Regions from separate parts of the Homo sapiens genome. Here region 2 is linked to region 1. A link means that fine-mapping ties the variant in region 1 to the plasma level of a protein whose gene starts in the linked region. Region 1 holds a variant in brackets. A gene starts in the other region. All regions are shown on their reverse strands. Region 1 has its middle 38 kb from the start of MIR5195. Region 2 holds the start of CCDC50 (coiled-coil domain containing 50).

The links. PIP is the posterior inclusion probability: the model's chance that the variant is causal. Protein levels are from antibody-based Olink assays in UK Biobank. Linkage for the fine-mapping came from a reference panel and not from the study's own genotypes, which makes the PIPs less certain.
Region 2: CCDC50 starts here. The variant in region 1 is fine-mapped to the plasma level of the CCDC50 protein (UK Biobank, PIP above 0.99).

The regions. Positions count from the first base shown.
Region 1 is chr14:106,810,431-106,815,804 of GRCh38, reverse strand. It overlaps IGH and IGHV3-74. Among named protein-coding and RNA genes, the nearest start is that of MIR5195, 38 kb to the left of the region's middle. The variant G/A (reference allele first, on the strand shown) is at 3,141.
Region 2 is chr3:191,325,942-191,331,315 of GRCh38, reverse strand. It overlaps CCDC50 (coiled-coil domain containing 50), which reads right to left and starts at 1,922. Exons shown (of 12, transcript NM_178335.3): 1 at 1,593-1,922. The coding sequence starts at 1,641. UTS2B (urotensin 2B) reads left to right here and starts at 790. Exons shown (of 9, transcript NM_198152.5): 1 at 790-902; 2 at 2,607-2,685. RefSeq lists enhancers at 1,153-1,753, 1,754-2,355 and silencers at 1,767-2,046, 2,147-2,226.

The DNA of each region.
Region 1 (5,374 bases):
ACTTGCATGTAACATATAAGACTCTATGTTAATTGAAAGAGCCAGGAACAGAAAGCTAAACACCACATGTTTTCACTCCCATAAAATAGTCAAGAAATATCCATAAAACATAAATAATTGAAATTGGACATGAACTATAGAAACAATAATTGTCACCTGAATATTTATTTTCCTTCAAATAATATATAATTCAATGATAGTAAGAAGAGTCCTGATAAATAAATCATGTTGAGATAAAGAGCTACTGAATTGTGCATTCCACACTAAATGGAAACAATGCCATAAGATCCAGTGTTGTGTAGGATCTGTTTACCTTTTTACCTCAAATACTACAAGTCACTCCCTTGTTCTAATCACCCCGCAAAACTGATATTTTGTTGCTTTATGTTATGTCAGTAAAAATGATTCCACATTGGAAGCTTCATGTGTTGCTCAGAAATCACCCTGTTGATAAAATGAGCACAACTACAGTTACAACCTTTCTGTAGATATTTTCTGCATATGATCCTCACTTTTTATTTGTTGTTTTTGTTCACAGTTTCTTTAAGCACTCAGAGTTATATAGCATATTTTCAGCATATTTTAATTATTTTCCATTGTTATGGTCAGTGCTCCTGTGGGCTCAAGAGTCAGGTGTTGTGTGACTGCCAGTTGACTTCACTGCCACCTTTACCTACACAAAACACTGCAAGATGAACCATGATGTGTAAGAACCCATCCACAAAGTGCTTCAAATAAAGACAAGGTGACTTGTGTATAGATTTAGTGAGACTGGGGAACAGTTCACGGTGTTATGTTACAGAGGAGCAGAAAGGTGAATCTCTCTCGGAGTTATTGAGGGTGTAAGAGCTGCAGTTTTGGAGGGTGGTGAAAGGCACTTTTGAGTGGGAAGCCCTAGAGCATGTGTGAAAGCTGAAGGAATGATCACCATGCACATGGACGCTGATGAGGCATGTGGTAAGGTCCATTCCCTCCAGATGTTCCTGGATGGGCGGTTGTAGGATGGCTCATGTATATGAAAATGTGGGCAGGGCTGAAATAGGAACAAGGCCATCATCCCACGGGAATGCGAGAAAGCAAAACAGAGATGGACACCCATGAAGAGAGCTCATTAGACCTGGTGAAGGAAAGATAGGAATCTCTTCCAAAGGCTCCGCTGTTCTTGGCTAAATATGAATTGTGGTGATAGACTGAAAATAAGGAGGGGAAGGGAGATATGACTCAAGAGAGGAAAAACCCTAAGACAGCATAAACCAAATCTACACAGAACAATCACATGGTAGATGCCAGGGTGGGGCTGAAACAGGAGCTTCAATCTACTGGGTACCTAGTTGAGATCCTTTGACATTTCTTGTGAGGTAATTCTAGTGATGATGAATTTCCTCAGTTTTCCTTTGTCTGGGAAGTATTTCTCTATCCTTCATTTCATAAGAGATGTTTTATCAATTTTAGGTTCTTGGTTGGCTGCTTTTTCCCCCCAGAAATTTAAATCCAGTTATTTGCTGCATAACAAAGTTTCTGCCAGTAACAGATGGTGGTTCCACGGTGCTATACTTCCTTACTTATCTATATCTCTTTATGTTTAGATACACAAATAATTACTACTATGTTTCCATGGCCAACAGTATTCACTACGGTTGTTTCTGAGTCACTGGGGTGTTGCTTTTTCTGGCCAGAACCCTCTGTGGCCAGTGGCACTTTTGCCTGAGTTCTTGTCCTACATGTGGAAAGAATGAAGTATGCAGCCATGTGGAGGGTAAGCAAGACAAAGCCTAGCTTCATTAAGCATTAGAGCATCTCAGAGGAGACCCCCAGTGAGTAGCTCCTCTCTGTAGGCAGGTAGACTGGTTGAGTGTTCAGCTCTAAGCAGAGAGGGTAGCTCCTCCCTGCAGCCGGTCGTCCTGTGGTCTTCCCAGTTCTCAGGAGAGAGGGTAGCTCCTCCCTGCAGCTGGTCGTCCTGTGGTCTTCCCATTTCTCAGGAGAGAGGGTAGCTCCTCCCTGCAGCTGGTCGTCCTGTCGTCTCTCCATCCTCTGTCCTGCTCCAGCTGAGGCCAGGGGTTTTTACGGACCTCCGAGGGGAGGAAGTGCAAGCCCATTGGTCCATGGGTGCTCATGGGTGGGCCGTAGGAAGCACCACAAGTCCCGACTCTGGTCTGAGGATCTGGGAGCCCCGGCCCAGCCTTCAGGCCCTTCCTGGGGACCCGCCCCTGTGCACAGGAATCTTCCTGCCTCCTGTTGTAGTTCATGGTCCCTGGGGCTCCGCCCTGACTTTGCTCCAAGATCAGAGCAGGCACCAGCAGCAGGAAGAAGCCAGGAAGTGGGAGCAGGCACTTCGGAGCATGCAAGAGCACAGGGCTTTTCCTGGGGACCCCAAGAGTGCAGGGGCGCCTGAGGCCGCAGCCCCCGGTTTGCGGAGCAGGGCTTCTGCCGGCTTCATGGAGCGAGAGGCCCGTGTCTTCAGCCGCAGTTTGGGAGGCTGCAGCCACAGCCGGGGAGGCAGGGCTCCTTCCTGTTCCTCGACCTCCAAGAGCACAGAGTCCGAGCCCACTGCCCTGGTTTGCGCAGCTGGAGCCGCACCTGAGAGATGAGAGCTGCTGCCTGCTCCTGGCTCCCACCGGCTCCGAGGAGCATCAGCCCCTCCACCCCTCCTTGCAGCCTGGGCAGGGGCTCCTGATCCTCTCTGGGCCCTGGCCGGCGTCCAGGGCAGGAGTGACATCTCCACAAGCTCCCCGCATTGCCCCGGTGCTCAGGGAGGCCCGGGCAGAGCTGATGACGACCCCGGCCCGTAGTCGGGAGTGGCGGCCTCCATGGTCACCCTGACATGCGGCTGAACCCTGGGGACGCGGCCCAAGCAGCCTGCACAGAACCTCCCAAGGCCCAGGAACCCCGCACCCTAGGCGGGGTGGGCACAGCGGCTGCTCCGCTGCCCGGGTTTTCAAGGAGGCGCCACTTCCACTTCCCTCCCTGGAACCCCGAAGTTTGACATGGGGGCTCCTTTCTGCCTTGCTCCGCAGCTCCCCTTCCCCCGGAGTGGAGCCCCCTGTTTCCCTGGCGTTCCCTCCCACAGCTGCAGTGTTCTCCATCGGTGTCATCACCTTCCAGCTCTGCTGCCCTGCTCTGCAGACTAAGGCTCTGATTCC[G/A]TAAGAGAGGGGAGCTGCTTCCCAGTAGAACCTTGCTGGGGAGCTCTGTTCCCATCTCAGTTCCTGAGGGGTTAAACCAGTGCATTTAGGATACTGGTTTTGGTGGTTTGCCCCTGTTGAGTAATTTCTTAGTTCTCTAGTGGGTGTAAGAGACTTGGCTCTGGAAGCATTTCAGAAGTGTGGGCTCTGATACACCCCAGACAGACACTTTGGGAAGGGAAGATTTTTGTGACTATTCTCATTATAAGGGAAAGGCATTCAAAAGAATAGAAAAACTCTCCAGTATGTGGTTCCTGAGAATTTCTCACTAAAAACATGCTTATCACACTCGACTCAAAACAGTTCAATGTATATTAGTGTATTTTATCTTGTACTAGCCTTTATTGCATTTGGTGAACTCTGCCCCAGTTCAGCTCATACTCTAGCTTTGATTCTCCCTACAAAAACTTGTCTCTCTCTAGATTTCAGATTTGTTGATTGTCTTAAAATTTCAATGATCTGAAGTATTAAAGAAAATTTGCAAAAGTCCATTTTCTCTGATTAACAGTTATTGTTGATTTTATTCTTGTTGTAAAAAAAAGAAATTCTCATCTATGTACATTTCAAACCTGAATAACAAAATTTTTATTAACACCAAAAATAATAAAAGAATCCAAATATTTATCAGCTGCCTAATAGAAAAACAAATCATGGTAACATTGTTCGCTGGAATATTACCCATCATTCATAATAAGGGAATGTCTGATACACAAAATAAGAAGATAAAATTATCAAGTATTTAAATTGAGTAAAATAAGCCAAACAAATAAGAGTATGTATGATTCTATTTTTAAAAATTCTGGAAAATGAAAACTGATCTAAAGTAATATAAAGAAGATTAGTAGTTTCCTGGGAATATGTTGGCAGAAGGGAAGGAGAAAGGATAAGGAAATAGAAATAGGAAGTAGAAGGACAGAAAAGAAGTTGAGGGAATTTCACTTGTCCACCTTCCTTATAATGGTAATAGTTATGCCATGATTATCAGTTTTACACTTTAAATATGTAAAGTTTATAATCTGTCAATCAAATCTTATAAAATGTATTATGAGGAAACAAGTTGAAAATTAGACAATGTAGGAGTGACAGAAAGATAGATATGAGTATGTTGAATGTCAGAGATACCTGAAAGTTTATCTACCTGAACCCTAGTTCTCTCCATAGTTTAAGGTAAACAGGAGAGTGCAGGAAAATCATCCATATTCTGATTAGGCAGTGGCTTCTGCAAACCACACTAGGCCTGGCCGGCTGTGTCCTGGAGTTGGCTAAGGGAGGAGTCAGGGCCAGTGGTGAGAAGTGCAGGCCCAGATACCAGAACTCACTCATCCCAGACATGAGCTCTTAGATACACAGAGAGCCCATCCATGTGTGGATTTATCTTACATCTGTAAGTAGAGAACATTGACTCTTACAGAACATAATTTACACACATAGGTAAATCTGAAATAAGGTGATCAGTGTGAAGATTTTATCACAGCACAGTTTCATAATAAGCACAATTTCTCAAATCCCATTGTTGTCACCCATCTTCCTCAGGACACTTTCATCTGCCCTGGGTCCTGCTCTTTCTTCAGGTGTCTCACCCCAGAGCTTGATATATAGTAGGAGACATGCAAATAGGGCCCTCACTCTGCTGAAGAAAACCAGCCCTGCAGCTCTGGGAGAGGAGCCCCAGCCCTGGGATTCCCAGCTGTTTCTGCTTGCTGATCAGGACTGCACACAGAGAACTCACCATGGAGTTTGGGCTGAGCTGGGTTTTCCTTGTTGCTATTTTAAAAGGTGATTCATGGAGAACTGGAGATATGGAGTGTGAATGGACATGAGTGAGATAAGCAGTGGATGTGTGTGGCAGTTTCTGACCAGGGTGTCTCTGTGTTTGCAGGTGTCCAGTGTGAGGTGCAGCTGGTGGAGTCCGGGGGAGGCTTAGTTCAGCCTGGGGGGTCCCTGAGACTCTCCTGTGCAGCCTCTGGATTCACCTTCAGTAGCTACTGGATGCACTGGGTCCGCCAAGCTCCAGGGAAGGGGCTGGTGTGGGTCTCACGTATTAATAGTGATGGGAGTAGCACAAGCTACGCGGACTCCGTGAAGGGCCGATTCACCATCTCCAGAGACAACGCCAAGAACACGCTGTATCTGCAAATGAACAGTCTGAGAGCCGAGGACACGGCTGTGTATTACTGTGCAAGAGACACAGTGAG
Region 2 (5,374 bases), not on the chromosome of region 1:
GAGTTTTATGTTTTTTCACTCACATGAATAGGGGATTGGATAAAATCATAGCACCATATGATTAATACTATACATACCAGGTTTTGTTTGAACTCCAATTCTCATTCTACTCACCATGCACTACACACTGCACAAGGATCACTCTTTCTCTAGAGACAAACCCAACACATACCCACACAAAAAACCCTCATATCCAAAAGTAAAGGATAACCAGACAATCTCTAAGATAAGAACTCTCAAAAGTATGGATCCGCCTTTCCTATCGCTCAGCCTCCTTAGTCTTGACAGCAGAGTGAAAACTGTTTTCTACAGGTGAAAGCCCTAAGTCTTCATCAAAGCCATACCAGGGACGGAAAGGTAGAAAAGTATTAACGCTAAAATCTCACGCCTAAGCTTTAACACCCTTCCGGAACAGTAAGACAGAACTAGGCCCATCAGAAATTCTACATAAAATCAGTGACCACTAGTCACTAGTCTCCTAGTGCTTGAAACTCTGAGAAAGCAATCAAGCAGTCCCTCATTTTCCTGAGATTTTTGGGCTGGCCTGAGCACACACAAGACCAACGGAGTCAAATTAAGTTGGCAATAAAACAAGCGGTTCCAAGAAAGCAAAAACTATTTTCAATTCCACATCTCCAAGACGCCTCAGGCTACAGTATTCAATCGATACAAATGACATTCACAACAGAAGCCGATTTTGCAAAGCCCTTGGAACTTAGGGGTCTGCGTCAGCACTCTGGAACGTCTATGCTTCCTAGGACCAAAGAATAAACAAAGATAACTCAAGGCATAAGGCGATCCAGCACCTAAGATCTCAGCAAAAAAAAGCTAGGTCCTGAGGCAGCTAGTGGAAAAACAAGAGAAGGGAAGTCAAAAGGCTACTTGCTGTCAGCTAAAGCCAGGTCAGTACTAATCTCTACTTTCCTGGACATTGGTACAAAAAGCAATGACAAGGCCATCAGTCCCCTGTTCCCCTCGCTCACTATTGTGTGTGTGTGTGTGTGTGTGTGTGTGTGTGTTTTGTTTGTAAGAAAATGCTTATAGTGGCTTCCCGCCCGCGCAGAACACAGCCAAGACTAAACTTTTAAACCTTGAGGAAGGTGGGAAAGTCAGCCAGCCAGACGCCGGCCTAGGAAAAGTAGGGAGAGAAGGAGGGAAAGAGTCATGTTTCAAAACAAAGGCTCCACACGGAACTGAATGTCAACCCCTCTCCACTTCCCAGCCTTCAAGCCAGCCAGGCTGGGCCTCGATTTTTTAGAAGCGGAGTAAGTCAGATTCACCCGGCTCTCAGCGTCCACTGAGGCTTTGCGATGCACGAGAACACGGGCACAGCCACCTACTTGCTGGGGCTGCTGCTAGCCCCCCCCCCCCCCAACCACCCCCTTGAGAAAAAACGGGCTTGGAACGTCGGAGACTTGCCCAACGTCCCACACTAGAACCTGAATTCAATTCCTTTCACGTCCGGGCAAGGCCAACGCAGGGCGGGCACCGGGCGAGGGCCGCGGGAGCCGAAATGGCAACGCCCCTGACCTGAGAGAACCTCGGGCTGGGAGAGGGGAGGGTCCCGCGCGCTCTCCCTCCGGGGCCCTTACCTTCCTTGACTCCAGGCAGCTTGGACTGGTCGATGCTGACTTCAGCCATACCGGGCCAGGGTCCCGGTTGCCCCTTTAACGCGGGCTTCCCGGTCACCGCCGGCGCCGAGCGGGGCCCCGAGCGCAGCAGCAGCGCCGGACGCGGCGCAAAGTCCGGCCGGCAGGGCTCGCAGGCCGGAGAACGGAGCGGGTCGGGCGGGCAGGGGCTGGTGACCAAAGCAGCGGGAGACGGTCCCCGAGGCACCAAGCTGGCGGCCCAGCTGCCCCGCCGCGGCCACCTGCTCCGCGTCCCCGGCCCCAATCGATACCAAATATCCGGAGCCCGGAAATGGACCGGGGCCGTCCAGTACGGAGGGAGAGAGGAGACAGAAAGGCGGGCGGGCCGGCTGGGGGAGGGGGAGCTGCAGGTCTGTAACCGCAATTGCGAGTGGCTGGCGAGCGAAGATCAGCGCCCGCTGCCGCCTCGCTGTTGTCTCCTTTGTGCTCAGTGACGCGCCGCCTGAGGCTGGGGCCCCGCTGTGCTCCCGCCCCCGGGCCCTGCCCCCCTCCTACGGGAGGGTCGCGTCTTTAGGTGGGGGCCTTGTATCCTAAAGGCCTCAACAAAAAGGCCACACGGGTCACCTAAAACATAGTCTTTCCCGTGAGCGGTGTAGTCAGCATTCTGTGGTCTGGTTCTGGGATTGAGATTAACACAGGATGTTTACTGCATGCTTGCCTCTCTCTCATACACTCTTTTTGCACCCGGAATTAGAGGAGAGATGGTAGATGGCCATAAAAACCCCAAATACAACGTACAGAATGAAGAGCAGCTGATAAAATTCTGGGCCAGTTTGGAGTAGAGTGTGTACACAATCAGCTGGGAGAACTGAGTCATTCATTCATCAAAATCGCATGAATGTGTCTACCAAGTGTGATGTTAGGTACTGTGGGTGATAACGAGGCGTCAGACTTATCTCTGTTATAGCGCTGCACACATTGGATTGTAATTGTGACATTTCTATCTCTCTAAAATAGACAACCTCTCCTGTTTCATCTCCTGGCAACAGAATGCATCCTCCTTTTGGGAAACTGCCTCTTTCCCCACTCCTCAGAGGTGAGCTTCTCTCCCAAACGTGTGCCATGTCTGAACCTCGAGACTACCCCATCACTCTTCCCCCTTCCTCCACCGACATGGGTTCATCGAAGGGTGGCTGGGTGACCAAGACAGGTCAAACAGAATACTTTCCTGGGTACATAAAGAGTTACATATTCTGTTTCTTGTGGAAAAGATCTGCCTCTAGGAGATGATGAGGCCAAACTGAAGACAGAAGCAAAGAGAAGAGAAAGGGAGATGAAGAGGGCATGTTCTGATGTTACCACAGTAGCAAAGCAGGATATCCCCAGAGCAGCTGGCATTTCAGCAACTCCTGGATTCTGGGATCTACAACCCGCAAACTCTCAACTTATCCTCAGTTTTGCTTAAGCTAGTAATAGTTGATTTTCTGTCACTCACAGCTCAGAGTCCCAGTATGAGAGGCCACGTAGGGGAGGTTTTATTTGAACTTGACATTGAAAAGTAGGTGGATTTTAGGCTAGCAAAAATTTAGAAGACTTTCAAGGCCAGAGGGTAGCAAAGTATAGCCCACAGGCCAAATCTACGCCACTGAATTTGAATGACTGTTTTTTATATGTTCAAATAATTACATTTCAAATCACTACATAAATAGGACATAATATTTTCGACCTTGCCTCTTAAGCCTCAAAGTCTAAAATATGCTTTACAGGAAAAGTTTACCCACCCCAGTGCTAGGCAGAGATAACACTCAGCAGGTTAAATGTGGGAATAAGAAGGAAGTGGTATTAGAAAGGTAGATTTATGGGAATTTTTTAATTGTCCTGTAATCTAGTAATTTTTTTTAACTTCCTGTGGTCTAGAGAATATTTATAACAGCAGTATTTTCTGTTTCCCTCCCCAAATCTATCGTTTCTACTTCTCTACCAAGCCGTGCCTTTGGATGCCTACAGATAAATCACTAGGCCCCTTTGACCTGTGGCTTCCTGTTGTGATTGACCAATGGGAAGCACTGGCAGAAAATCAAAAGAAGGGAGGAGAGAAATATCAGAGTATTCTTCTTTCCTTTAACCCAAAATTTTGGCCACAGTCCTGTCCCTCTATGACTACAGGGCCTGTGTAGAGGCCTCTTTTCCATGGCCTCAGCTCTCATGGGTCTCTAATAAAACAATTTGTTTCCAGTGTCCCTTCAGGCCTAGAGTGTGATGGCTTCCCCTAGTTCCTTTTGGCTCACTGCAACTTCTGCCTCCCAGGTTCCAGTGATTCTCGTGCCTCAGCCTCCCGAGTAGCTGGGATTACAGGTGTGCACCACAACGCCTGGCTAATCTTTTGTATTTTTAGTAGAGGCAGGGTTTTGGCATGTTGGCCAGGCTGGTCTGGAACTCCTGGCCTCAAGTGATCCGCCCACCTCGGCCTCCCAAAGTGCTGGGATTACAGGCACGAGCCACCACGCCCGGCCTCCCCTAGTTCTCTTAACCCAGTTAATACCTCTGAAATTGTCTCTTCATTACATTCTTTTCAGTAAAATCACTTACAGTGCACCTCCTGTTTCCTACCTAGACTGTGACTGTTACAGTAAGATATGCCAAAAGTAAGATATGCTTAAAATATGATGTGCTTACAGTAAGATATGCATAAAAATATCCACATTTCTGGCCTAGAGAAGAAATGGAAACATATATAATAGCCACAACTATTGTTTAGAGAATCGGCTGCTTTCAGCAGAAAAAGTAATGAAAACCAGGAGCCCTTTTCAGGTACTAGAGCAGATGACCTGGAAATCCACCCCATAGTTGGGCTTTCCTTCTCCTACTCCACACCTGTTCTGTATAGGTCCCCAAGCTGAGCAAACAATTAGAGCTCAGCATTACAGAGTAGGCAACTTCTAGCAAAGGACTGACAGTAACACGGGGAAGAGCTAGTATCTTTTGAGTATTTATAGGGAATGAACATATGGTGAATTTCTGTAACAAGTTTACATCTTTTGGTGTCCTGAAATGTCCATTTTGCAATAAAAGAGAAAGCATAAGGCTTCTCAGGATGGATACAGATCCCTAATTTGGGGCAGATGCCAAACAAGTAATTCAGCATCAAATCACAACTTGAATGCCATAGAGAGAAATAAGGATTTTATTTATAAGGCAATATGGAGGCATCAATTGATTTTTTTTTCTAGGTGGATATTACATGATACATTTTCTACTTTTATAAAGTGAATTTGGTAACAATAAAATGCTTGGATTGGAGTAGGGAGACTTTGGTCATAAGAAATGAAAACTCCAGTTTGAAAACTACCAAATTCCACAAAAGCATCCCCCAGTTAGAGCTTACCTTACTAGAAGGTAAGCTCTGTGAGGGCAGGGGTTTATCTGTTTGATTCCCTAATATCCGCGTATCTAGAAAAGTGCTTGGCACATAATAGGCACTCAATAAATATTTGTTGCATAAATAAATAAATATAGTTATCCAATTTTATTATCAGTAAGAATCACAAATTAAAAGTAAGTTAAAAAAACAATATAGGCAAATGAATAAATTACACTGGACCTTGGCAAAACAGGAAAGGGGACCCACAGAACTATACTTCTGGAAAGAATTATCTGTCTCCTTGGCCCCCAGTGCTTCCTAGCTCATCAGCATAATATACCTAAGAGAACAGTTCCAAAAATGAGGATGCAATTAGAACTGTTATTCACTTTCACCAAGAAGACTGTATGAATATTCTAAGGTT